Regions from separate parts of the Homo sapiens genome. Here all the other regions are linked to region 1. The links come from fine-mapping of genetic effects on plasma protein levels. A gene starts in region 1. Each other region holds a variant in brackets. All regions are shown on one strand. Distances are from middle to middle.

Region 1 (4,070 bases):
CAGGCCTCTGTAACACACAGCTTGATGAAAATCACTTACACAGGGCAGATGACACAGAGGAGTTTACAAGGTCGGGGCACTCCTTGGCGGGGCGTGAAAGGGTGGGAGGTGCTGAGGTCAGGGTTAAACTACCCTGTGAAATGAGCCTCCTGCCCTGCCCTTTCCTCCCTTCATCTATAGAAGGAGCCTCCAGTGAGTTCCTGCGTCTGGAAATCTGCCCCCTTTAGTGCCGCAGACAGGCCAGGGACAGCATTTCAAAGCTCCTCTAAATCAATCCACTTAAAAGAGCCCAGAAAAGCCTGACCATTGACCATAATTGCCCTAAATTGCTTGTTTTCCTTCCCCTCTTGCAGCCTCATCAACATTTCCCTTCTTTCCCCCTTCGTGTCCTTTTTTCTTGGGGGCGCAGGTCCTCTAGATGCTTGGGGTGCACACTAAGGATATTTGAGTAGTGGGAGCTCCGACTCGAGGCAGGAGTGGGATGTCTTAGCATTCCGTCTCCCCCACCCCACCCATCTGCGTGGGACACAGTGACTCCTAGAAGGGTATCCCAGGATTTTAGCGGCCAGGTGTGAGCGCCCTCCACGCGGTCCTCCGAGACCTCAGGGCGCGTGGCAACTGGGCAGAAGCCGTCTCTGCAGCGCCGCTGCCCCGGGTGGAGCGGCAGCCCAGGCTGCAGCAGTGGGGTTGCCACGCCGAGTTTTCCGCATCGGCCGCCCGCAGGGCTCGCCTGCTTCTCCCCATTGTGTTCTCAGAGCTGTGGGACCCAGCCGCGCGCGCAGCCGCACCCGCGCCAACGCTGGAACCGAAGGCTCATGGAAGCGGGGCTGGCAAGATGGGGCAGGGAGAAGGAGCAAGAAGGGGCCCCAGAAGGGCACGGCGTTTCATCAATAATGCAGAGGCTCCTGGACCTCCCTGCAATACGTTTTCCAGCTAAACGCCACCAACTGGAGCGCTTCCTGGTTCGTCCCACTCGTGTGGTTTTTGTGTGTGAAAGATGGGACGCACCTTTTTCATTCATCTGTCTTCTCTCATTCTTCCTCCTTCCCTCCCTCATTTCCTCCCTCAAAGTCCCCGCTGGCTTAGCTTTAAGCTCTCGTCTTCACATCAGCACCATGTTTTCAAGCAAAATCCTGCAGGTTGGAAATGCAAGTGTCAAAAGTCCCCACTGCCTACATACCGCCAAGAGTTTACCAAAATCCACCTAGTAACGCTTATTTTCAAAGCCCCCACGCGCATCCATTCCTGGAGAATGCTTTCAAAGTTTGGAAGCTCCCTGCAGCCTGCCCGTGTCTATGCCTCAGTCAGCTCACATCACGAACAACGGTGCGGTCAGCGGCACTGAGATTAGGCTGCAAAGTTGCCCGGCCCCAGCCCACTACACCGCTGATGCTCGCCGCATCCCTAGAGCAAATTCCGCTGTGTGCCCCCAAGAAGCCAAAAGCGGCACGAAACCTACTCCAACAAGGGTTAGCCCAGCCACACACACAACAAACAAATTCCAAAACTTCTTTGTTAAGCAGCCGCAGCCTACCTGGAACGGACACTCTGCACAACTGGCAAGGAAGAAACAAACATCGCATCCCTGCAGGAAAACTTGTTGAATCCCTCCCGATCGCAAGGCTGCAATTTCCGATTTAGCCTGAAGGTTTTTGATTCTACCCCAAAACACCCTGGCGCATCAGCCACAATTTCTGGATAAACTGCAGAGTCCTCTCGGCAACCATTCTGCACTCCAACAACCACTAGTGTAAAACCCAGCGTGTCCCCTTTTACAAATCAAAAGCCAGCTGTCACTTCCCTTGCAACCATTTCCGAGACTTACCCTTCCATAAGACTGTTTTCAGCAATCTAGAGGCTCCGTAGTGCAGACGCAGCCCTGCAACTTTGCTGTGCACTGAGACCTTTCCGAGTTTAAACCAAGCGAAAGGTGACAGACTTTTAAACCTAAGAGTGGGGAAATAGGGAGAGAGTGAAGTCGGGTTTCTTCTCTGTATCAGCACCCTGGAAAAATTCAATCCTTCTTCAGTAGAGAATTCTTTCAAACCCGTTATCTGTATTACTATTAATGCGCAGAGCAGAAGGCATTGCATACAAATAGGTCCAAGTGTGCGCTTCTATTGGTGGCTGCGGAGGCCCCTGGGTCCTACTGCTCCGGTCTAAACTACACAGCAACACTAGGCACGCAGCTTTGGAGACGCCGAGGGGAAAATGGATTTAATTGATTCGTTACCTCTGGTATTGTAATGCCTGCTGCGATGTTTAACCGAGGGGGGAGGAAAAAAAAAAAAAAAAACCCTTACATTTAACTCCTGTCATGTGATCTATCATTCCATAGCTGCTTTTAATTGTCTGTGTGGAGTGGCTTTGATCATACAAAGGATTTTAAAAGAACATTTTCGAAGGAAAATTCACACAGACACTTTTGGCAGGAAAACCCTCTTTTGCTCTCTATTATGCATTATTCTCATATAAATCCAGGAAATTTTATATAATCAAATACTTCTGCACTTCACGTAGGTACACACAACACCCAATTGTATTTACAATTCATAGCTACTACAAATAAAATACCTTACATGGGTAGTAGATAGTAGAAGCTAAAATATGAGTCTACCAATTATAAAACACGGGTTATATTAGTCAAATGCTACAGAAAAAATTCCATCAATGACAATGGCGTCAGCATCATTTTTACTTCGCAAAATTAGAAATTCAAAAATATTTTCCTTGTAAATATTGACATAAAGATATAAATCAACATAAAGGTATTATAATGTCACAGTATGTCAAGCATTTACTATTAATTGCTACATTATCTTTTTACAGTTTCTCTCTTAGCAAGTTCATTAGTAATGCAAATTGGCATAACAAGGAGATTTAAAGTGAGGCCGACCTGTGGTGACTAGCAATTTGAAATATTGTAATAGTGTGCAAAATCACTTTAGTTCATCATCGGTAAAGCCAGTTATTTTAAGAATTAGAATATTAAATGCTGAATCTTAATATATATTAATTTGAAGTCTTAAACATGCTGTTTTCTTTGACCTTTAATTTTGTGGAGGAAAAGAGAAATCCTTATTTAAACTAAAATGACATAGACTTTCCACAAAATCCTAGATACGATATTTACTGATATTATAATTTAGGAAGTAACATAATTTTATTGTCTTTGATGTAAATAATTGTGATAAATTCCAATTTAATTACAAAATTATTACATATATGTAATGTACAACTGAATGAACATTGTTGGAAAGGGCCACTCTGGATAAGGTTAACATCAACCAACCTATAAATTCACTACCTATGTGTAAACTAAATAAATGAAAACACAATGCAAAAATACAACAGACTCGAGATCTTATTCCAAATACATGTAAAGCATTTGAATTTATGTAGTGTGTGCTACAATCCCTCTTCATTTCCGTAACTCTTTCCCTTTACAGCCCCTTCCCTTCCCCCAATCAGTAACCCTTGACAACAGAAGTGTTAACTTCAAGTCCAGGTTGCCTTTGCTGCCTTCCAGACCTAACTTACAGATTGCATCCTTGTAGGAAACAGAGTTAACTCTTACACGACTGAGAGGTGAAAGAAGAGAGTTTCTTTCAGGGATTAGAAAATCCAGTATTTTTATGTGTATTTGCAAAGTTTGCACCAAACACATATTTTTAAAAATATCCATGATCACTAATTCAGAGTGAAAAGATGTGATCATTGGCATTGTATCAGAGTCAATTTGCTGTATATATCCATTGCTATTGTGTCACTGAAATAGCTTTTGAATAACTTTTATTCAGGGTTACTTCAATCACTTTACTTCAGGTTAATAATTTCTCCATTTACAATAGAGTTAAAATGAAAATACCAAAGTGTTGCAATATTCAGTATAAGGGTATAAAGGACTTTTTTTTAATCTGTAAAAGAAAAGAAAAGCTATTATTTCATATAGTAAGAAAAGCATAATGACCATGCAAAGTTGAATAAAGATGACTGACATTCATCTTATTTCTAAAACAAGTAAATTATTGGTGTTTCAACTTCTTTCTACAAGGGGATCTGAAAAAAAT
Region 2 (4,070 bases), 340 kb before region 1:
TTTCAATTTCCTCATTTTAAAAATGGAGATGCTTTGGCACTGGCATAAAGTCAGACATAGACCAGTGGAACAGAATAGAGAACCCTGAAATAACTCCATACATCTACAGTGAACTCATTTTTGACAAAGGTGCCAAGAACATACATCGGGGACAGGACAGTCTCTTCAATAAGTGGTGTTGGGAAAACTGGATTTCCGTATGCATAAGAATGAAACTAGACTGGTATCTCTCACCACATACAAAAATCACATCAAAATGGATTAAACATTTAAATTTAACACTTCAAACTATGAAACTACTAAAAGAAAACAATGGGGAAACTCCCCAGGACATTGGACTGGGCAAAGATTTCTTGAGTAATACCCCATGATCACGGGCAACCAAGCAAAAATGGACAAATGGGATCATATGAAGTTAAAAAGCTTCTGCACAGCAGAGGAAACAAGCAACAAAATGAAAAGACAACCCATAGAATGAGAGAAAATATTTGCAAACTACTCATCTGATAAGGGATTAATAACCAGAATATATGAGGAATTTATAAGGAGCTCAAACAACTCTATAGGAAAGCATCTAATAATCTGATTAAAAAATGGGCAAAATATCTAAATAGCCATTTATCAAAAAAGACATATAAGTGGCAAACAGGTATATAAAAAGGTGTCCAATAGAGGTATCAGAGATACCAATAGAGGTATCAAAATATCTCATGTAACTTATACACACCTACTATGTACCCACAAAAATTAAAAAGAAATATTAATAAAATGTATAAAAATAAATAAAATGGAGATTCTAGTGTTAGCATCTACCTTATGCATTCTTTTGATAATACAATAAATTAAAAATATGTTGAGTGCTTAGCACAGTGCCTGTGACATGGGAGGTGCTGAAAAGATTCTCAACAATATAGTTATCATTTCAATTATTGCACCCATTGTTATCATCCTCATTATTATTTGGCAGTATATTCTCTGGTATATTTTTAGCGGGAATGCAAAATGCTAAAGCCAGCATACTAAAACAATGTACCAGTTTCTTATGAAGTTTCCTTATTTGTTATCATAGACTCAGCAATTCTGCTCTTAGAAGTTTTACCCAAGAGAAAAGGAAAACACATGCCCACATGAAGAGTGTTTATATCAGCTTTATTCATAATCACCTCCACCTGGTAACAACCAATTGTCCACCGAATGGTGAGTAGATGAGAAAATTGTGGTACCAACATACAGTGGAATATTAAAAAATAATTTTAAGAAATAAATATTCATACATGCAACACCATGGATGGATTTCAAATACTCTATGTTAAGTGAAAAAAAAAATCAGAAAGAAAAAGCTACTGATTGAAAAATGTAATTGATATGATGTTTTAGAAAAGGCCAAGTTATAAGAACAGAAACCTGATCAAAGTTTGCTAGGAGAATGGACTACAAAGGGACATAAAGGAACCTTTGGGGATGACGGAAATATTACGTGTCTTAATTATGGTGGTGGTTACATCACTTTATGTATTTTCTAAAATTCATAGAAATGTACAGCTATAAAGAGTAACTTTTACTGTATGTAAATTGTATCTAGATAACCTGACTTGAAAGATGAAACTAGAAATACGTGCATATCAAGTCACTATGGAGGAATATGTGAAAATACGAACAAGTTACCCTCCAAGGGCCATACATACACTCCTTTGAACAAAACTTAAGCTATGATTGGAGTTGCTGGTTCATCCTAAAGCATTATGTCAGAATCCAGTTACATCCACAAAGTTCATGGGTATTCCTGAGATGTTGCTTTTTGAGCTGGACCGTAAAGCCAGGAAAACGTGGAAGTAAATATTCAAGATCCAGGGTCCACAAGTCTTCAGTTTTGCTCAAAGTCTGACCCTCTCTCACACTCAGGTTCC[G/A]GGTCAGCAAATACAACTCATGAGGATGGGCCCACAAACACGCAAAGCCTAATCCAGGTTATAGAGTTATTAACAGGAATCAGTTCAGTGGAGTGAAGGGACAAAAAACAAAATAAACAAACAAACAACCTGATTAACTGGCACTGAGCTAAACAAGAAAGCTCCTGGCAGCAAGTGAAGAAACACCCTGTTGGCTCTAAATTCTTAAGCTATTCAGGTTTGAAGCCAGATAATTTTGTTGTAGTAGTAATCCAAAGACAATCAATTTTTATGTCTGACACGTCTTTGAACTGGCTACTCCATATCCCACCAATTAAGTCTTCTTATTGAATAATGCCCATTAGTTTCTTTACCTTTTTATTTGAAAATTCTGTTTACAAGCAAGTAGCAAACTATAGAGCAGTCTTTTGATTTAATTGGTTCTTATTTTATTTTTTCTTCTTAAATATAAGATATGTCTGATTATTATTATTATACAATAGATGCTCTCATATTTGCTATTATAAATTGTCTGAATTGTTATACCTTCTTCTTTCCAACTAACTTTTCTCTCTCTCCTTTTTTAACTTTTTTATTGTATTTGGTTTTCAAATTTAGCCATAGTCTAACATTTATGATACAATTTTAAAATTGATGATTATAATTTTTAAGGATTGAAAATGTTTTATAATTTTACAAAATAAATAAAAATTAAAGACTTTAACTAAATCAACTTGTTAAGGTACTATAGGCCATGCAAGTTACAAAAACTGGTCTTTTGAAATATCTTAAACATGTAAGTGTAAGCAATATTTATAATTCGTAAATTTTCAGAAATTAAGTTCAATAAAAATAATACTTTACTCTGCTTAATTCATGTTTAATTTGTCCAACTCAATATAATTTAATTTCAAACATTTATAAGGATGCAGACAACCTATGCCAACAAATGAGTAAACAAATCAAAAATTCTTTGGAAGTCCTGAAGGACTATAGCCACTTTTTAAACTTAAATTGATTTCATTTTTGAGAAAATGATGTTTCTCTCAATTGATTAGACCCCTAAGAAATGAACGGTTGGGCCACCCTACCATATAGAAAGCCCCAAATAGCTGAAGTGCTAATTGGGAACAAAAGGAGCACAGAAGGAATGCTAGAGTTGTACAAAAGAATCACAACTTAGTGAATGGTTGCAGAAATGAAAGGCTGTAGAGTCCCATAGTTTTTTCCTTTCTTGGCCTTGAATGTATTTGTGTATAGTAACCAATTTCCATTTTTCCTCTTGTTCCTGTTCTCTACATTTTTTGAAGATTTTACAGAATGACAAATTGGGATTGCAACTGAATGAGAAAAGCTTGAATACATCCCAATGTCTTATTCAGTTAAAATGAGATTATAATCAAATAAGTTATTGATGGGATTTTGAATTTCCATTTTTGGGAAGAGAATGAAGACATTGTGTATGATTTAGTGCATTATGTTAGACTGGACCAAATTTTTATTGTTATTGTTGTATTTGGAAGTATAAGTATTTGTAGTAGGATGTAAATGGATGTTTACATGAAAGTTCTGGATATGAATAGGTTCTGCCAGGTAGGTGTAATTGCATGAACTTTGAAGGGCAAAAGGAGGTAGTGGTTATTATTCTGCTGTTGTGGGTATTACAAAAACAGAGTAGAGATCAGTGTTGGCTGACCCCTGTACTGCATATGTCAGTGTCTTGTCACCAGCAACTTGGCATGAGGGCCAGTTGCGTTAGAGACAGAGCACCAGTTTCCTAATGTACTACAACTAGTATCATATACAAATGTCTTCATGCTGTTTCCCAAAATGGAAACTGAAAATCCCATCAATAACTTATTTGGTTATAATCCCATTATAATCCCATTATAACCAAATGAGACTTTGGGATGTATATACCAACTACAGTGGTGATCTTCATTCCCACCGTGCAAGTGGTCCCCCAAGTTTCTTGGCTGCAGTCCCTCCAGCAAGTTTGTAAAGTACTGTATTCCATGTATACCATCCCTTTCCCCTAAAATAACACTAGTATCTTCTGTTTTCTCCGGTTATCCCTGACTGCGATACCATGGTAATGCAGACTTTTCAAAAGAGAATAAAAGGTGGAAATTAGACAGATTCAGAAGACAAAAACATGGTACAGAAAAAAAGTACAAATCATTT
Region 3 (4,070 bases), 1.0 Mb before region 1:
GTCGGAGAGTAAGATAAGAAATACGTAATTGTATGTGGAAATAAAATTAACAAAATCATATATATTCAAATTAGCAACTTTTCATTCCTGAGTACCCTAAAAGACTAAATTTCTGACTTATATTTCATTCATTTAACACTTTTTCGAACACATGAGCTTCGAACATAAGACAGACATGAGGAATACAGGTGGACTTTCATATGTTTTATGTGTATTAGATAAGTAATATATAAATCATAATTTAGAATAGATTATAAGAGAAGTACTTGGTAAAAGGAAAACAAACAGATAACAGGAAGAAGAAATCTAGTGTGGGTATTTGGGTGGGATTTTGCTGATGGCTCCTCTGAGGAAGTTGTCTTTGAGATCTGAAAAATGAGTGTGTTAGACAAAGTGGGTAGAAGAACAGAACATTACAGATAGAAAACCACATGCCAAGACTCTCATATATCGGTATACCAAGCTGTTGGCATGCAAGCTTTCAAATGCACATGTAACATATGAATAGTGAAAAGACAGAGCAAGAACCCAATGCTCACTGAAATTATCTTTTTAATTGTATTGTCATCTAAACTAATTTGTGTGCCAGAACTGAGAATGCTTTAGTTTACTGCAATCCTTTCAAAAGAGTGCTTGGACTTCACAGGTAGGTGTAAAATGCTTGGCTTTCTTTTTTCTAGTTTCAGGGTCCAAACATGATAAGTGTATGTGTAATTATTTAAATAAAATTGCAAGTGTGTGGAAAGTTTCAGGATGTTCCTTGAGAAGAGAAACCAGCCTTTCTTAACCAGTACTTTGCATCTGAATCACATAATTTCTCAATTCCCCTAAGGATAATACGTAACTAGAACTGTTCTCGATGCATGGGAAAGAAGTTGATTCATTACACATGGTGGGTACCTTTAGGGCATTAGGACAGAATTCTCCTGTGGAATAACCAGTTGATGATAGCATTGCCCAATAAAGGTACACATAGAACTTGAATCAGTTTCTTAATTTCAGTGTTAGTCTAAACACTTTACTTACTCATAATGTTCACCCAAAATACCCCTAGTGATTCTGTGGCAACTGAAAATTCTCACAGTGGTGAATCAGATATAGATAGAAGTACAGGCAGAGGAGATAGAAAGCTGGATCTTCGTTCACATACATTTATATCATCTTCTTGCTTCTTGAAGAAAATTGGAATTGTTATGGCATGAGTAGTTTTGGATTTTCCTTTTCCATCAAGATTTAGATGACTAAATATATTCAGAGTTCAAATAGGTATACTAACAACAATAATAAAGAGAACACCATTACTAATAGGTATTAAGTGTGTCACCATTTACAATGACATTTAACATGCATTTTCTCGCTGAATTCCCTCAACGACACACTGAACTAATCTAGGTATGATTAGACAATTCATTTCACAGATGGAAACAATGAAATGTATAGAGATCAAATGTCTTCCATAAGATCAGGCATTTAATAGGTGTTGAAACCTGAAATTATAATGTGGTCTTATAATGCCCAAGCCTATGCTTTGTTCTACTAATCCCCAGTGTTTCAATTATTAAATATAAAAATTAAGATAGACAGGAAAAATTATTTTTAAGTCATTTATTCAATCCAATGACTGGTACAATAAAGTTGTGTTGACTTACCATATTTAAATCCCAAATAGAAAATTTATTTTGGAAAATAAATAGAATACATAATATGCATTGACACTTTATGTAAGATGAACCCCAAAAAAATCTATTTCAGGTTTACTACTCAGGTTTCCTTTGACCTTCACACAACAGAGCTATGTATTTATTTTGCAGAAACAGAAATTTAACTTCTTAGGGAAAAGGGGCTTTATGACATCAGCTGTATTAAGTATGTTAATTTCCTCTAGGGGAGAGGAGGGGAAGAGGAAGCAAAAGACATTGAACAATGAAAGAAATTGGAAGAGCAGACGAAAGCACTAATCGAAGGAAGGGAGGAGAAGCAGATGGCGTAGGAAGGAGACATGTGGGAATTGGGAGGAAA[G/T]GAAGCAATTGGCAAGGAGTGGGCTGAATGCCAAATTTGTGAAGGATCTGAAGGGCACTGGGGATTTGGATGGGATGTGAGTCAGCTGCTTTTTACCAAAATATCACACCAACAATGGAAATCAAAGAAACCTACAAAGACACACAGGAAGCAGAAAAGGACTAGGAAAAGACCTGATGACATACTCCATTCTAATAATTTTACCTCGTCAGCATGGGAATGGGAAGCGTTAAATAGTTATTTTTGGTTTATTGGTTTTGTTTTGTTTTTTACTGCATAACTAAATTGTTCTCCTATCTTCATTATGGATTTTCAAAACTTTAACTTGCTTTTGAAAGAAATGATACAGATAAAACCCTTCTATATATTTTAGCTATTTTTTACTTACCTTATATAAATGTGATTTGTTATTCACTATCACTCATACACAAAACAATTCGTTTAAACCATCTAGGATTACAGTGACCAACTGTCCCCATTTTCCCAGACCTGAGAGATTTCCTGGGAATAGAATTCTCATTTCTAACACCAGGACCATCCTGGGCAAACCAGAATGGTTGGTTTTCCTAGGTAAGGTAAAAATCTTAAGAAAAAACTACTAAATATACTTGTTCATTATGCTAAAGCATACTGATGCTGTAAATTTTTTTTCTACCTTTTGCAAAGAAGAATGGATAAAATCTTAATTCAGCTATGCAATAAGTAGATGAAATGAAAAAAATAGTTACTGATTGGATAACAGCTTTGATGAAAATAAATATCTTACAAACAAATTCTTTCCCCATCATCTAAATTATTTTTTCAATCAAGTAAAAACAGTTGTAGACATAGAGAATATTTGTGGCATGCTACTGTAAGGACAGTAGGAAGAAGAATAAACAACTCAGCATAACTTATCTCAAGGAATAATATAAGTCATTCAAAAATGCTTAAGTCACAAAGGCTCATATCAGCTCAGAATTTGAAGCATGAAAAGATGAGTGTCTTTTAAGCTCTTCTTCTTAATAAAATGAAATAATTCGGGATAAATGATCGACAAAGGTTATCATGAAGAAAATATTTTTGAAATTTCAGAATTGAGTCTAGGCAGAGCTTAATATTTATACTGTGTTGCTAATGTGTTAGTTTTTACTGTATTTTATTATATCTATACAAAATTCCCCAGTCACTACATTAATAATATTTTACTTAACTCAATTTTTCATTTGTTATATAATATCTCATAATTGCTTACTTTTTTCAACAATAACTTTTGAAATGTGTGCAGCTAATGATATTAGAACCTGGCTAACTCACAATTTGGACTGATAACTACAAAGCATATTCAGTTGAATAACTTACTGATTTATAATATCCTTTTCAACATAAATCCTTCTTTTCCTAAGTGGCAAATGATGACAGTTAATTGTTTTCTTTAGATAACCTCTACTATCTTTTTAGGTAAGACTTCTAGTCTTCAGAATAAATAATTTTAGGTTGTCTGAGCTATAATATTTGGCCAAATTTGACCATTTCTGTGTCATCTTTTAAAAAACTACTCAATTTTTCAAATTTAAAAACCTTTGTTATGTTATAGATTTCAATACTGAACATAATATGGACTAGTTCTTGAACATGCCAAACCCCGGTTTCAAGACCACCACAACTTCCATTCTGTGAACTAATCTCTCCAAATCATTGAACATTAAAAACAGTACTTCATAATGGAAACTAAGAGATACTGTCATCCTGAGTCAAAATTTGCACTGATAGCATAGCAGAGTTGTTATATATGTTGCAGAATCTATAGGACCCTATAAAAAATGTTATGAGTCAAAAAAATGCAAGTGCCCCCTTGGTTGCCCTCTCTTCCCTAACCAGCCAATTTAGATGTAGTGACTGCATTAGCAGAATTTTTAGTATGTAACTGACAAGATTGTTGGCAGGATTAAATGGGTGAATATACATAAAGTGCTTGTAATAGGACCTGGCACACAGCAAGTGCTATAATAAGTGCTTACTATTATCATCATCATCATCATCTCCTTCTTCTTCACCTTCTTCATAAGACT
Region 4 (4,070 bases), 470 kb before region 1:
TTATGATCTCTAGTGGGCATATGCTCAGTAAGTATCATGGTATGTAACCAGATCTTGCTACATTGTCTATCTGACTTGTGACTCACACAAAAACTCCCTCTTTTGCAGCAACTGGAGTTCTGGGGAACAGCTGCTGATCTCACTCTGAAATTAAAAACATTTGAGTTGTTTTGATTTATGTTAGCTCCCATGGGAAGAAAGAAATGAAAAATGGATGCTTCGTGTAAACAAAATACCATTTCTCCAAACTGTAAAAAGAAATTGTTCTAAATATTCTGACATATTTCTTTTATTGAAATATGGTGAGATCATGTCACTACTATATTGTTAGATGGGAAGATGTCTAACAGTATTCTAATAAGCCAACTGCTAGGATTTTCTTTTAATAAATACTATTCTGGAGGTACAACTTTACCATATCACCTCTGAAATTCAAATCTATGTAATATAGCATCATGTTGTCATGGAATGCAACTAGCAATGAAGATCATTAAAGTGATACACTCTTTTGAAAGCCCAAGCAAAGGAGTTTCTCTTTTCTAAAGAGAAAGTTCAATGTCTGGGACTTTAATGTTTCACTATATGTGAAATAATTTGATCAGGAATTAGTGAAATAGAGAAATACTATTCTCAAAGTGATAATGAATTGACTATATATTTTTGTGATATGGATTTAAAAAAAAATATCAGTTTCTTTTATATACCTCTGGGTAGAGAGAGGCAGGTTCTTTTATGGTTAGAATTCTCTTAGGATCTTGTGAAAACAGATTATGAAGAGCAATCTATAACCAGGCCAGCGGGCATGATTGATTGGCAACATACGAACAAAAAGTCTTTGGGTTTAAAGGTACGTTTCTCTCCTCCTCCACGTAGCTCATTGTACACTCTTTACTGCATTTTTTTTTCTTTTTAAAAATGGTCTGTAACCCTGGTGAGCTTGTGAGGGATCAAATACATTATAGATGATAATATGCCTCCCCTCAGGAGGCAGGGTTTAAGAAGTCAGATTTTTTCAGTAGTCCTTGCTGTCTGTTTCTCTATTTTATGGTCCCTTTGAAAAGACTGAACCATTCTTTTTAGCAACTAGTAATGAAATATTACTTTAACATAGGGATAGAATTTCTTTTTCTTATTTTGGGGATGTTCTGAAACAGAATGCCAGATTATCCTGAAACTTCTTTTAAAACAGTTGTAAATTCACCAGTCCATAAAGTTGTTTTGGGTTTATTTTAATGGGTGCAAAGTAGAAAAACCAAGTTTTAAATAATTTAAAATTAAGATATTACAAGTACAAGTTCTTCATGTAAACAGATACTCAATTATTTTTAATAACTAGAAAAATAATTTGGATTTTATTTATATTACTGAAGGAATTTACTAATTGAGTAATCTAGGAAGGAGTTCATTATTTTCCATTTTCAACTTTTTTGAAGGAGAAAATTACAGGTTAAATCCTGTCACTGCCAAAATGTCTGCATACTACAAAGATTTCAAACACATTTAATATAATGAAAATTTAATGGTTGCATAGGATATGAACAGTTCCTTTGAGATCATTGTATTGAGAATACTTCTATGTTTAAATCAAACAAATATAATAAATACACACTTCCAAAAAAGCTAAATACTTTTTTGGCACAATTGAACCTTCTATTTCTGTGCATGATGACAACATGGAAGGTCATTTGAGGTAACATAGTTGTATTCTTTTTATCATGAAAAATGCCTAACATGAGGTATATTGAAGTTTACATCGCATTTAGCATAGACCAGTATTTCAAATAATTTCTAAAAATAAAATTTAGAGAAAAGAGCATGAGCTTTGGGGTTATACAGACATAGTTTGAATCCTGGCTGCAACATTAACTAGAGTGTAATGTTCAGTAAATTAAATCTCTGGTCTCCAAATTCTTCACCAGGAAAGGGATTAACATGTGGCTTATTGGGAACTATGAAGATATTCAAAGTCAAGTCAGCAACTTGACTGAATTCCTGACAAATGTTGAAGGTGGCTAGTGTCATTTTCGTTTATTATATAAATAAGCTATGCATGCTGTAATATATGCTCTTGCAGATGTACTAATAAATGTTAACAATTAATACTATTAACGTTGCTTGCTTGATATGAGATTTGAAAATAAAGATATTATATAAAGTGTTTGCCAATAATATATTCATTTTGGAGGAAATATTCTGCCTGAGATAAAATAATAATTTTTAATTGAGATAATTTATGAGAAAACAAGACTTTTTAAAGCGTGTGTTGATGAAATCTTTCCAATTCAATGAAATCCATCGAAAAGTTGAAGGGAGAGTTTAGAATTGAAAATAAAAATAGTGAAGTGTAGTTAATTAACCAAGGAATGAAAATGAAAAGTTGTTTTAAATATCAACTCAAGAAACACTAAAAAAAAAAAAAATTGGCTCCAGAAAGTCTACTAAATTCTCTTAAAG[A/C]TATTCAAACTTTCAGAATATTAACGATATAAAAAAGGAAATAGAATCAAAGTAATACCTGTGAAATACTTATTTAATACCTGAAATATTAAATAAATATTTCATTTTGAAATGAGATAAATGCCTTACCAAGAATATGTAGTACTGAGAGGTGACAGCGTGCTGGCAGCCCTCAGCCCTCGCTCGCTCTGGGCATCTCCTCTGCCTGGGCTCCCACTTTGGCGGCACTTGAGGAGCCCCTCAGCCCACCGCTGCAGTGTGGGAGCCCCTTCCTGGGCTGGCCAAGGCCGAGCCGGCTCCCTCAGCTAGCAGGGAGGTGTGGGGGGAGAGGCGTGAGCGGGAACTGCGGCTGCGCTCGGCGCTTGCGGGCCAGCTGGAGTTCCGGGTGGGCGTGGGCTTGGCGGGTCCTGCACTTGGAGCAGCCCGCCGGCCCTGCCGGCCCCAGGCAATGAGGGGCTTAGCACCCAGGCCAGCAGCTGCGGAGCGTGTACTGGGTCCCCCAGCAGTGCCGGCCCACCGGCGCTGCGCTCGATTTCTCACTGGGCGTTAGCTGCCTTCCCGCGGGGCAGGGCTCGGGACCTGCAGCCCGCCATGCCTGAGCCTCCCACCCCCTCCGTGGGCTCCTGTGCGGCCCCAGCCTCCCCACTGAGCGCTGACCCCCGCTCCATGGCGCCCAGTCCCATCGACCACCCAAGGGCTGGGGCGTGCAGGCGCACTGCAGTGGGACTGGCAGGCAGCTCCACCTGCAGCCGGTGGGATCCACTGGGTGAAGCCAGCTGGGCTCCTGAGTCTGGTGGGGAGGTGGAGAACCTTTATGTCTAGCTCAGGGATTGTAAATACACCAATCGGCACTCTGTATCTAGCTCAAGGTTTGTAAACACACCAATCAGCACCCTGTGTCTAGCTCAGGGTTTGTGAATGCACCAATCGACACTCTGTAGCTACTCAGGTGGGGCCTTGGAGAACCTTTATGTCACACTCTGTATCTAGCTAATCTGTTGGGGAGGTGGAGAACCTTTGTGTCTAGCTCAGGGATTGTAAACGCACCAATCAGCGCCCTGTCAAAACACACCACTGGGCTCTACCAATCAGCAAGATGTGGGTGGGGCCAGATAAGTGAATAAAAGCAGGCTGCCCGAGCCAGCAGTGGCAACCCTCTCGGGTCACCTTCCACGCTGTGGAAGCTTTGTTCTTTCGCTCTTTGCAATAAATGTTGCTACTGCTCACTCTTTGGGTCCACGCTGCTTTTATGAGCTTTAACACTCATCGCAAAGGTCTGCAGCTTCACTCCTGAGCCAGCGAGACCACGAACCCACCAGAAGAAAAAAACTCCGCAAACATCCGAACATCAGAAAGAACAAACTCCAGAGCGCCACCTTAAGAGCTGACCGCGAGAGTCCGCGACTTCTTTCTTGAAGTCAGTGAGACCAAGAACCCACCAATTCCGCACACAGTACTGTGAAATGTGACTGAGTATATAGATTTTCAATTTATAAACTGTGTGTTTTACAGACCACCTCCTATGAAAAGACATATGCTCATTCTTTCCTTTAAGTAATTCCTTTATGTTAAGCAATGCCCCTTATTTGTAACAATTTGAAATTCTAGGTCTAAAG
Region 5 (4,070 bases), 260 kb before region 1:
GGTGACCATTGGCAGACTCATAATTTGAACTAATACTTATCTCTTAATTACTTTAGTGTATTGGAATGGAAAATGCAAATTTTGTATTTCATGCTATCTCCCCAATTTGTTTGATTTTTTTCTTACTGCCTAGTTAACAGGCAGATATCCATAACTGCAACAATTTTACCAGTAATACATAATGTTTCACAAAAAGGAGAAGCCATAGTTGGGCATATGTGTGTGTATCTTTCTATGTGTGTCTGTGTGTGTGTGTATGTATGCGGAGATACTTAGTAGAGCATCTGAAGTTCTGGCATAATTTTCTTCATTCAATAAGGCAAATAGTTATATGATTGTAATAGAAGGTATATCCCATTTTGCAGCTCTTAAAATACTTTATAGATGCTAAGAATACCTCCCTGAAAAAAAAAAACTTTTTGAATATTCAATCCCTTAACAATTATGTTCTTACTTATATTAAAATGAATTCCTGTATAATTTATCATGGAGGTGAAACTGGTGTGAATTTGCCGCATTGGAAGACAGCATTAACTGAAGAATTCAGCTCTAAACAAAGACATTTTAATTTATTAAACTTCTTTCTATATATTTTTTTTTTCTTAAATTGACTTTCTACTTCTGTTCAGACCATTTTCAGTCTTCCAGCGAAGAAAAAAAAAGAGACAAAGAAAAGTAAGAGGAAGCAGGTTGAGGAAGGATAGAGAGAGAAAGAGAAAGAGATTTCATCTCTTGTAAATTGCCAAATTGCGACAATGATATAAGAAAGACACAGCTTAGATCGAACAAAGCAGAAGTCTAAAACTAAATGTCATGCTGTCAGAGTTCAGGAAAGCAAGGTATATGTTCTCCAAAGCTCAGCAGGCAGGATGAACTTTTTCCTGATTTAAGGACCATGCTGAGAGAGAAGAAGAGAGGAGTCTATTTTAGCATCTGAAAACCAATGATTTGGAGAGAAAGAGGACATGGCTGCCTAATACCAGGGAAAGCTTACAATACTTTGCAGTAACGATCATTGGCTTGACAGTCTCTCCACTACAGACGAGGTGTAAGAAGGACAATAAAGATGAAGAGCAAACGTAGATTACTGTCTTGTAGGGTAGGTAATACAGGCAGACAAATAATGATAACATAAGGTAGACTGTTGCAAGCAATGTATACAGTGGTAGGTTTACAGAGCAGTGAAGTTATTACAGTTGTAATTTTAAGATTTAGCTTCAGGGAAGAATTAATAGGTGAGGTATGCTTTGAATGATGGGTATGATAGACATGGGTAAGGGAGAATTACAGGCCATGACCACAGTGTATGTAGATGCACAGAGGGATGATCCTATCAGTGGCATTTGTGGAAGAGCAACTAACTGAAGTAAACCAAAATACTAACTATATTAAGAGGGTTAATGTTAAGCCTGGACTGGAAATACACCTAGACAACATCTTATCTGAATGAATAAAGAATCTGCATTTTATTAAATTGAAAGAGAGATCACAGGTTTATTTATTTATTATTATTATATTAATTATTTTTAATATGGCAAGTGTTTTGAGATTTTATGATGAGAAATATGCTTTACAAAAAAAGCCTTTCGTAGCAGTGAGGAATAACTGAAATAGATAGTAAGTGGAGGCAGCAATATCAATTAGAAGATTTTTAAGGATATGAATGTCAAATCGTAAGATGCCTAACCAGCAACGGGGTGAATAGAAGTAAGAGATAATGAAATGACAAATAATTAGAATTTATCTGTTTATTGAAGTAGGAACAGAAAAAGTTACTCATCAGATGCCAACAGTAAGTTTCAAAGAAAAGAAATAGAAAAACAATGAGATGAAGCAATTTTTTTTTTTTGAGATGGAGTCTCACTCTGTTGCCAGGCTGGAAGGATCTCGGCTCTCTGCAACCTCCACCTCCCGGGTTCAAGTAATTCTCCTGCCTCAGCCTCCTGCATAGCTGGGACTACAGGCATGCACCACCACGCCCAGCTAATTTTTGTACTTTTAGTAGAGACAGGGTTTCACCATGTTGGCCAGGATGGTCTCGATCTCCTGACCTCGTGATCCACCCGCCTTGGCCTCCCAAAGTGCTGGGATTACAGGCGTGAGTCACTGTGCCCGGCTGAGACAAAGCAATTTTTAAAACAAGTGGATGAATTTGGTGTTAAGTATGTTGAGTTTCAAGTGTCATAAAAGCATATGTGCAACTTACATATTAGGTATGTGAAAGGTTTAAACTGGCAAGTAGGAAAGAGTGTGAATTTGTTATCCATTAACCAAATATCCAAACCCCAATGGAAAGATTACAGAGTTCATAGGAGGTTACTGGAAGGCAATTTGTGTCAGGTTACAACACACTGCCAGTGCTTTATGCAGCCACATCACCTAGATTCTGGAAGT[G/A]TCAGTTGCCCAATCAATCAACATACATAATAGAGCTCCTCTTGAGCCCTGGCACTGTTTTACATAAGGGGATCAAACCTGATGATAGATCATGATTCCTATTATAATGCTTAGAGCACATTAGCCGGTTTATTAAAAGCAGGAGAGTGAGGAGCATGATGATGTACAAAACAAGAACTACATCCCTTGTGACCTAATAGGACAGCTACGAAGAGGGTTCTTTGATAAAAATGTAGACCACAAATAAATGCCTACCAAGGTGTCTACACACTCTGAGAACAACTCTATGTGAGTCCCCGGTATACACAAACTATCGGGACCATTAGAAATAAATGGGGGCAGGGGTTTTTGTTCACTGACTTTCCTCTCTATTGAAATAGCTGAAGAGCAGTACTGCAACTTACTACAACAAAAGGCCATATCAAGAGGATGCAAATTTTTTGTGGAGGTTCTTCAGAGCCTTTCAGTAATCTTTCCAAGCATGCTTTCCTTTGTTTTGGGAATGAGAAGTGTAGAAGAGGTTTTTGGTGGTCCTTCTATGCACTTTGCCATTTTATTGTATTGTTCATCATAAAGAATAATTGATCTCTTAATTTTCTAATTTTGCAAGTCTGTGTATATCCACATTTTACTTGGAAACAACATGGGTGTGTTTCTGTGGTATATGCTGGCGGTGTCATGGACTCACCAGGCTTTAATTTTTCTTCACAATATAACATTTAGCAACATTCAGGAAGGTATCCATGATTTTGTGGGCTGAATGGTCCCTTCAAAATTCATATGTTGAAGTCCTAATATTCGGAACCTCAGAATATTACTGTGTTTGGGTATCAGGTGTTGAAAGAGATAATTAGGCTAATATAAGTCTGGTAGAGTGAGCTCTAATCCAATATTACTAGCTTCTTTATAAGAAGAGGAAACTAGTAATGTTGGATTAGGGCTCACTCTACTATTCTCAGCAAAATATCAGCAAAATATCACAAGGACAGGAAACCAAACAATGCATGTTCTCATTCATAAGTGGGAGTTGAACGATGAGAACACATGGACACAGGGAGGGGAACATCACACACTGGGGCCTGTTGGGGGGTGGGGAGCTTGGGGAGGAATAGCATTAGGACAAATACCTAATGTAAATGACGAGTTGATGGGTACAGCAAACCAACGTGGCACATGTACACCTATGTAACAAACCTGCACGTTGTGCACATGTACCCTAGAACTTAAAGTATAATAATAAAAATCAAAAAGAAGAGGAGATTAGGACAGAGGCAAACACAAAAGGAAGACCATGTGAAAACCCATGGAAGAAGATAGCTATCTACAAACCAAACAGTGAGGCCAGAGAAGAAACCAATCCTGCCTAAACGTTGATCTCAAACTTCTAGCCTCGAAAATTGTAAGAAAACAAATTTCTTTGGCTTAAAACCCTCAATCTGTGGTGCTTTGTTATGGCAGACCTAGCAAACTAATACACTCAGTAACAAAGATCTTTGAACTACCATTGCTCAATAGAATGCAAGCAATTTCATTAACACTTTTTTATTGCTTAAATAAAAGCAATTTCCACCAAAAACCTTATGGCTTTTCATTCCCCCAAAAAGGAATTCTCAGAAATTACGTTTGATTAAAATTTGTGTTAGTATTGTAAAACAGAATGCAGGATCTGGCATCCG
Region 6 (4,070 bases), 760 kb before region 1:
CATTATCTTTAAGGGAATAGTATAGTGTGTTTGTAGAATTGTGAAAAGCAAGAATTCTGAGATGAGACAGGCTACTTTTATGTCCTCACTCTACTACTTTGACTGGCCATAGTTAAAGAGCTTAACTTGTTGAACCTCATTTTTCATACTGACAGACAGGGCTAATAACAACACATTCATTTCTAATATGATTGTTTTAAGTATTAAATAAGATAAGGCATGTTAGCACTTTGTCAAGCAGATAACAACACTCTGTAACTTTTAGGCATTATCAGTATTACCATTATTATTAGAGATATTATTGATTCCTAGTGTTTCAGGTTCCGTGTATACAACTGGGCCTATACTACTACATCGATCATCATTTAATAAGTCACTTGGGTTTTTTCATCATGTAAACACATATATTTATTTATCTATATCTACATATAGACTCCTAAAAAGCAATGAGCTCTTAAGATTCAATGACCTATGACAGGAGAAAAGATCAAATACCACAATGAGTTTCTTTTTCTTCATCACCCTACTGAATTTAAATCAAAGCTGTTCTTAGGATGCTTGTGTTCAATCTGAATTCATGGAGATTAATAGCAATGATCTTGTCAGTGAATGCCCCTCCTATTTGCATAGATATCTGAATGAAAGCTTTACGTCTCCCCAGTTTTTCTTCTACAGATTTAGATTTTGGAAATATATTACTAAATTCATTCATTTTAGAAAGTGGTCGTTCTACCAGATTGCTAGGAAATTTTCACTTCTCTTCAGATACAAGGGAAATGAACAGATGAGTTTTATTTTCCACAGCCTGTACAAGATGGTTTACTTTACTCAGACAACTTGCTAATGGAACGGTCTGGATATACTGAAATTACTTCCCAAACCAAGCAACTAAAGAAGTTGAAAGCTACCCAGAGGTATGTGTAGTTAACACATACAAAGGTACTTTAACTCACTTTGTTGTATGAGCAAGGACAATTTTAGTGAAGTTTCAGAGTGACAGGCTTCCTTTTCAATAAAGCCTAAGTATACAAAATCAGCTTTAGAGCTATGCAACTAAAAAGCGGACATGTTCTTGTATAGGAAAGGAATTGCAGATAGATATATTTCTTTAGCCAAATTAAAAGTCCACCATTAGTGAAAAAAGAAAATCACGTGCTAAACAAGAAAATGTAACAGCAGGCAAGTTAAGTTGGAGATCAAATTATGAGACTTAGTGTATCTCATTAGCACTGTGTTGCCAAATGATATTGAAACAGACATTTGTGACCTGATTCATTCATTCTTTGGCTTCATGTTCTTTTCCTACTCTACCTGAAATTGCTAATAACATAAAAGGGCTTCAATCACGTTAGTGCAGAGAAGCTAAAATCTAGCCTTCTACCAAAACCCAGGAATGAACTTAGCAAGTTGGTGTTTTATATATATTTTTTTCATAATGTTTTATATATATTTATATATAAATATATATGTTTTTCATAATATATTATATATATGTTTTCATAATGTTGCATAAATTATGACCATACCTAACATGATCCAAAGACTTTTATGTCATATGAATACTATCTTGTTATGCTCATTGAAATTGTAAGTTAAATCAAGAGATAACATATACCTGAAATGGCTTTTCAAGAACTTACTAGTCATACATAACAATTTTTTTTGCTCTTTTACTTTCTATACAAACTGGGCATACGAACTGTGTTTCAAGCAGAACACTGCAAATAATCTTAGAGGAGAGCTTTGAGGACTCCACGCTCCTTTCATGGCTGACTGTGGACAAGCTGTCCCCAGCTCTCAGGTCCTGTACACATGAGTTGAATTTAGACATACTTTGAACTTGATACTTTC[T/G]GAAATCTAACCAAGAGCATCTTGAGAAAGTGTTTTAACTGTGAGCTGTTATTGCCAGAAGTAGCTTAAAAATGTTTTCTAGTAAACCTTGCTCTACTTAACTGAAAGACTAACATGATTTGAAAAATAGATCCCCAAAATACTGTATTATTAGGAACCAAAACCGACTATTTCCTATATGCTGCATACAAAGCAATCACTTGACACAAAAAGACTATATTCCCACTTAACACAGAACCACACTGCTCTGTTGACATTTGCTTGTATCCTTTGATGGTGCTTTTAACGCTTCATTTAAGTGTCAAACTAGGTGACAAGCATTAAGCCCAGATAGACTATTTAGTCTCATCTTGTGACCCTAGAACATTTTCTACAATTGCTTACCTTCTATCCACTTTCCCCTCAAAATAATATGAATTAATTAAACAAAATAAACAGAATATTATTTTCCGGCTCTAAGCCATGGACAGCTGTGAACGCCACAGAGGTACTTCTCTCTTTGAATAAAGTCAGAAAGATATGCACAGTCATGCTGTTCAAAATATTATTTTATGTGTGGAATAACACTGTCATAAGACATTTGGAAGCCAAGTAAAATCACAGAAGTAAGAGGATTTGTAGCAGCCTGTTTTGGCTGAAGGGAAATGAGGCTGAGCTCTCCCATGAAGCAAGCAACATGACACCTTTCGGTGTTAGAAATAGCCTTTTGGATGGTTAAAAAAGAGAGAGGAAAAAGCAAAGCAGTGGAGATCAAAGCTATCTCCCTGTACACTACAGATCATCTTTTTTTCTTCCTCTTCTTCAACAGCAAGATTGAAGGAAGGGGCTGAAAGTGGAGGGAGAAGGGGAAAGGAAATCATGCTAATCAAGAATTGTAAAGAATGGAGGTAGCCTTTTGATCTCCACAGGATGGCAACTTTATTGGCTATGCATAAGCAGTTTCCAACCAGCTGATCAACCAGGTATTAAGGCTCAACCCTTCCATGATCAGTAACCATGAAGTGAGTTATCTGTGAACAGCAGTCAAGCAGAAGGCTCATCTACTAAATGATCACCAGCCCATACTCAACCCAGAGCCTAAGAGCAACCACAGGGGAAATGATTGTCTCTCCACAGGCTCTTCAGTGAGGAGTACCAATTACTTGCCTTGGGATTCAGAGCAGAGCAAAATCTTTCCTCCAGTGTGCAAGAAGAACAATGCCATTCATTTTCCAAAATACAACTCGAAAGCCACGTGCATCTGCATCACCAGCAGACAATGTTTTGAATCACATTCAGTCTCCTCTTTTAAGCATGCCAGAAAATGCAGATATAATCAAGGCTCAATGTGAACTGGTTAGATGATGTAAAGAACTGACTGTCTTGCCTGGTGATCTAAAAATTAGAGACCATTTTCTTAATGACAGGAAGAATAATGCCTTCCTTCCAAATTCTCAAGTGTTCAAACCACAGTTTCATTTAAGTGGATTTTTTCTGAGACAAGTTTTAAAATAAAAAGTGATTGAACCATAATCTTTTTTATTTAAATTCTTCATTTCTCTCTTTCGACTAGGAAAATGCACAGTAGTTGAGAGTTTTAGAGCCAGCTTGGTTCAAATCCCTGCTGAACCACATTCCCTAACTTCTCTATGATATAGTTTCTACAACAGTAAAATCAGGGCACAGTAATATCTTAGAAATAACAGCATATATGTCATAGGATTTTTATGAGCATTAAATAAGATAATGGTGAGTGTTTAGTAAAGTGATAGTCCTAGCTTCACAGTAAAAGTAGCCATTTTCATGAAGTTTCTTATTGCACCTAGAGTTGGAACTCCATCTCATCTTTTAATTATTTCCTTCTTTCACTTTACTGGTCTCCTTTAAGCAAAAGCGTTACCATACAGAAGGTAACTACTTGGTGTATCAGTCTTCTATATACATTGAGGCAGTCAATATTCTAAAGTCTTATCATATGTAGCTTAAAAAAAAACTGTTCAATTGATTCATGAAAGAGTTAAACATGCTTCAAATTGCTTTTTTTGTTGTTTTAAAACTGCAAACTATCTAGTTCTTTATATAGTTGTTGAATTTAAGAGAATATACACTGACATCATATTTTCAGAAATCCACTTTTTGGACCGGGCACACTGGTTCATCCCTGTAATCCCAGCACTTTGGGAGGCCGAAGCAGGCAGATCACCTGAGGTCAGGAGTTTGAGACCAGCCTGGCCAACACA
Region 7 (4,070 bases), 750 kb before region 1:
CGAGGTGCAGTGTGTGTGTGTGTGTGTGTGTGTGTGTGTGTGTGTGTGTGTGTTTTAAAGCCTGAAATCGGATCCGTGATTGAAACCAGAATCTACCAAAAGGAAAGAAACAGAAGTTGAGTCGTGGCTCAGTTCACCCACAGTAAAAAAGTTTCCTAGGGAGTGTATGAAAACTATTTACAAGTGTAGATACAGTGTGTACTCTTATGTCAGAAGGGCCCCGTTTCAGCATCCTTCCAACACTTCATATGGAATTTCAGTATTATTTAATTAATCCTAAACATCCCAAATTCAGTTTTCTTTCGCCAATGAGAATCCCCAGGCAACTCCCCTTTCCGATGCTTGCAACCGCCTGTTTTCCTTCTAAACCCAGCGAGGCAGTGGCTATTTTATATCCTACCTTAAGAAGGAGTTATTTCGTGAAGCTTCTTCAGAATCAAATTTAATTACAGACTTTGGTTACATAAAACAACTACTAATAACCCCTTGTGCTCGGAAGAGGAGGGGCTAGAGAGGACTAGGCTCAGGAATCCTGGCAAGCCTGCGGGCCACAAGCTCCCAGGGCGCACATTTCCCTCCCCAGGGAAGCAGCCGGCGGCTGATACTCACTTCGGCTCATCCTGGGGGCCCTAGCTCACTGCCAGCCGCTGCCTCCTCCCACCCTAGTGCTTAGACGTGCGTTTGCCCAGAGTAATCTGGGCGTGCCCTGAACTTGGCAAAAGGCCGAGATCTGCAAAGAGTCTTGAGGAGGTTCAGGGGTGGAGGGGAGGTTTTGGGGAGTGGGGAAAAAGAGACAACCCCAAATGCGAACTAGGAACATTTTCGCCTAAAAGTCTAGCAGGAATCGAGCCCCTCCGGCCTTAGGAGGGAGGGGTAACCAAAATACACTTCTGGGTTTGATCGTGCAAAGTGGAGAGGGGGCGAACAGGGAGGATCAAGGGTGAAGAAAGAAGACGCGGGGTTACCTGAACAGAGACATATTAATCCAAACAGGTAAAAGTGAGCGGGCTCCGCAATCATTGTCCTCGGGTGGATCCTGTATACAGTCTCATGCCAAGAGGAGGGAGTGGAAATAGGGTCCCCAAATGTATGAAGCCACACACCACACACAAAGGCTTAATATAAGCAACGTGGGTCAATTAGCCAAGAGTTTTCAGGGCAATTACTCGTCGACCTTTCCGGACGCTTGTCAGTATCTCAGAGACTTTTGCAGAGGAAGAATTCCAAGGTTTGTCTTCTCCGGCCCCAGGATTTCCGAGGAGGCTCAGACACTTTCAAGAACCATCCAAAGCGAACAACAAAGAGCCGAGGCAGAAGCGCAGTAGTGCCGTTTCCTGCCTCCACGGTCTTGCGGAGCCTCCCGGCGTGCGCCCCCACAATGTGCGGCCGAGCGCCGCTGCGAGGGCAGGCGCGGCGGCGGCGGCAAAGTTGGGGTGTGAGAGCTGCTGAGGGAGGGCCAAAAAGTGCTTCTCCGTCTCCCGGCGAGCCCAGTCAGCAGCGGGCCACCCGCGGCGGCGGCGATAGCAGCCAAAGTAGAAGCAGCAGCTCCGGAGGAAGGGCTCGGGGTGCCGGGAGTGTGACTGGGTGACTCCGCGCGCAGAGAGCGAGCGAGGGGGCGGTGCGGCGACAGCGGCTGCCTGGGCGGGCCCTTGTTCCCATCACTTGGGGGATGCGGAGGGTACTGGAGACAGCAGCAGGACCGCGGACACTCGCACGTCTTCTGGGCGCCCCCAGCCCCGCGCGGCGCCCAACATCGCCCTCGGCCCCTCGCCCTCTGGGGCGCTCGCAGGCACCCCTAAACTACGCAGAAGCCCAAACTTCCTGGGGGCAGCTGCCTGCACCCCTGGCTCGTGGAAGCTGTAAAGAGGCAGCTCCCGGCTCTCCCCGGGGTGGCAGAGAAGGGCAGAGAGGATGCTGCTGCGGGTGGGAGAGACGGCCGCCGCGGCTCACCCCAGCTCCTCCCGGATCAGCGGCGTCTGAAGTTTCTGCTCTCACGCTGCCTCCTCTCCAGCTCAATTGCTTGTGGGTTTCCCCCACAGTCCCCGCGGCTCCCAGTTCCCTCCCTCTCCTCCCCGGCCCGATAATACTTAAAGGGGCCGCGTGGTCCTTTCCATGCTTCACTCTATTCTCCAGGCGCTGGTCAGGCAAGTTCTGCTCCTCAATATTTCCATCCACAAGCCAGGGGTGCCCAACTGCGCCCTCAGGTGAGAATCCAATTGCTCGGAATCGGAAATCCAGGCGAATGAGAAACTGTCTTGTTTCTCTCGCCACCCCTAGCTCCCCTGCACCTTTCTCCAAATGGAACCTCCCAGCCAAAGACTTCAAAAATCCTCCTGGTCCAAC[T/C]TAACCTCTTCCTTGCCGCTTCCAGGAATTGGAATAAACTCTCAACTCCACTCTCACTTCTCCCCATTCCCATTTAAAAAAAAAAAATCAATTTTGAGCAACATGGCTTTAGGACAGGAGGTAAACAGAGAACTATCCAGAACATATCAGTAGATGGGCAGTCTCTTACAACCATCCTTTTCTTTTAAGTTGCAGTTGTTGAAGGTCTTGTAGAAAAGATATCCAAATCATAAGGCACAGGGTTGGGCCTTGGGATCATTTCCTCATGTTTCAGTTGAAACTCTCTCTTTCAACTTCATACTCCACACATTAGAAAGCTAACAATGGGGATGTAATTTTAAGAGAGAGAGAAACAAATGCAAAAAACAATCTTGACAAGCCCAGAGTTTGCAGTTAGGAGAAGCTAGTCAGGCATAGGTTTGACACTCAGTATACCCGCCCTGAAATCCCAACCTGCCAGTTATAGCTCTGTGACCAGGTCTGTTTTCTCTTCTCTGTTTCTGTTCTCGAGATATTTTATTGCATTAACAAAAAATACACAAAGCAAAACAAACCTGACACGTCTGAAAGGCATTCATTCATTGAGTCAGTCATTTTTCTTTCTTTCTTTTAAATAGGACACAGTGGCCAGGCGCTGTGGCTCACACCTGTAATCTCAGCACTTTGGGAGGCCCAAGCGGGCGGATCATTTAAGGTCTGGAGTTCGAGACCAGCCTGACCAATATGGTGAAACCCCGTCTCTACTAAAAATTCAAAAATTAGCCGGGCGTGGTGGCGTTCGCCTGTAGCCCCAGCTGCTCGGGAGGCTAAGACAGAAGAATTGCTTGAGCCCAGGAGGCGGAGGTTGCAGTGAGCCGAGATAACTTGCCACTGCACTCCAGCCTGGGCGACAGAGCGAGACTCCGTCTTAAATAAATAAATAAATAAATAAAAAGACACACTATGTGAAATACCTAACATGCCGAATGCTGAATAAATGGCAGAATTAATATCTACAGAGTTGTGTACCATAACTTCAAAAAAAATTATTTGGTGTCTAGCAGTACATGTAAGAAGCTGCTTTCGGTGGTTGCCTCTGGAGGACAGAACTGCGCAATGGATAGGGCAGAGAAGGAGGATTTGCTCTTTTCTACATAGTGTTGTGCTTTTCCATGTCTTTTCAGGTGAGCACATTCATTACCTAATGGAAGATAAAAATTTAAAAGCAAATTGTACATTGATTTTGGTTGCTGCTGGTGCAACCAACGACCTTAGAGCGACATTTTGTGGAAACTCTGGTTAACAGCACCTATCTTTGAAAGTGAAAGATAGTCTAATCCTGAGAAAACTGACTATAAATTCAGTAAACAGCCTGGAGATAAGAATTCAAAGACTCCAACCAAAATCTTTTCAGCAGTAAAAATATGAATGGGCAGTCAAAGCTGAAAAGCATACATCGATTTGGTCTTGCTAAAGGATATTTAGTGAAAAACATAGAATATATCTCTTTTTTCTTGGAATACAAAATACTTTTAAGAGAAGCTTACCTAGTAATAGAAAACAAACACTAAAGTGTAGTACTTGAGAGAAAGAGAGCAAGATAGAGAGAAAATTCAAATCCTCATATCATTTGAATGTACGTTAAATAAAGATGTCAAACTTTCACTTAGTAATGGGGGTATACTTTTAAATATAATGAAGAATATGTGTAAGGATCCCTATTGCATTGTTCCCCCAAATGGATCTCC

Which allele goes with the higher level. Positions count from the first base shown, and alleles are read on the strand shown. Strength reflects both the effect of a copy and how common the allele is. Not every link is listed here.
As copies of A replace G in region 2, the plasma level of the protein whose gene starts at base 2,072 in region 1 goes down (weak association).
In carriers of allele G in region 3, the plasma level of the protein whose gene starts at base 2,072 in region 1 tends to be lower than with T alone (weak association).
For the plasma level of the protein whose gene starts at base 2,072 in region 1, allele A in region 4 goes with a lower level than allele C (weak association).
With allele A in place of G in region 5, the plasma level of the protein whose gene starts at base 2,072 in region 1 is higher (weak association).
For the plasma level of the protein whose gene starts at base 2,072 in region 1, allele T in region 7 goes with a higher level than allele C (weak association).

The links. PIP is the chance, under the fine-mapping model, that this variant and not a neighbour inherited with it causes the effect. Protein levels are from antibody-based Olink assays in UK Biobank. Linkage for the fine-mapping came from a reference panel and not from the study's own genotypes, which makes the PIPs less certain.
Region 2: its variant is fine-mapped to the plasma level of the ROBO1 protein (UK Biobank, PIP above 0.99).
Region 3: its variant is fine-mapped to the plasma level of the ROBO1 protein (UK Biobank, PIP above 0.99).
Region 4: its variant is fine-mapped to the plasma level of the ROBO1 protein (UK Biobank, PIP 0.95).
Region 5: its variant is fine-mapped to the plasma level of the ROBO1 protein (UK Biobank, PIP 0.95).
Region 6: its variant is fine-mapped to the plasma level of the ROBO1 protein (UK Biobank, PIP above 0.99).
Region 7: its variant is fine-mapped to the plasma level of the ROBO1 protein (UK Biobank, PIP above 0.99).

Annotation. Positions count from the first base shown.
Region 1 is chr3:79,765,927-79,769,996 of GRCh38, forward strand. It overlaps ROBO1 (roundabout guidance receptor 1), which reads right to left and starts at 2,072. Exons shown (of 31, transcript NM_002941.4): 1 at 1,826-2,072.
Region 2 is chr3:79,427,539-79,431,608 of GRCh38, forward strand. All of the region lies in intron 2 of ROBO1 (roundabout guidance receptor 1), which reads right to left. It overlaps LOC101927374 (a long non-coding RNA gene), which reads left to right. Exons shown (of 3, transcript NR_110133.1): 2 at 1,070-1,197. Among named protein-coding and RNA genes, the nearest start is that of MIR3923, 78 kb to the right of the region's middle. The variant G/A (reference allele first, on the strand shown) is at 1,908.
Region 3 is chr3:78,736,131-78,740,200 of GRCh38, forward strand. All of the region lies in intron 5 of ROBO1 (roundabout guidance receptor 1), which reads right to left. Among named protein-coding and RNA genes, the nearest start is that of LINC02077, 690 kb to the left of the region's middle. The variant G/T (reference allele first, on the strand shown) is at 2,020.
Region 4 is chr3:79,297,441-79,301,510 of GRCh38, forward strand. All of the region lies in intron 2 of ROBO1 (roundabout guidance receptor 1), which reads right to left. Among named protein-coding and RNA genes, the nearest start is that of MIR3923, 210 kb to the right of the region's middle. The variant A/C (reference allele first, on the strand shown) is at 2,455.
Region 5 is chr3:79,504,625-79,508,694 of GRCh38, forward strand. All of the region lies in intron 2 of ROBO1 (roundabout guidance receptor 1), which reads right to left. It overlaps MIR3923 (microRNA 3923), which reads left to right and starts at 3,263; the gene lies at 3,263-3,345. The variant G/A (reference allele first, on the strand shown) is at 2,395.
Region 6 is chr3:79,010,219-79,014,288 of GRCh38, forward strand. All of the region lies in intron 3 of ROBO1 (roundabout guidance receptor 1), which reads right to left. Among named protein-coding and RNA genes, the nearest start is that of MIR3923, 500 kb to the right of the region's middle. The variant T/G (reference allele first, on the strand shown) is at 1,852.
Region 7 is chr3:79,017,442-79,021,511 of GRCh38, forward strand. The region is part of intron 3 of ROBO1 (roundabout guidance receptor 1); the gene reads right to left. Among named protein-coding and RNA genes, the nearest start is that of MIR3923, 490 kb to the right of the region's middle. The variant T/C (reference allele first, on the strand shown) is at 2,344.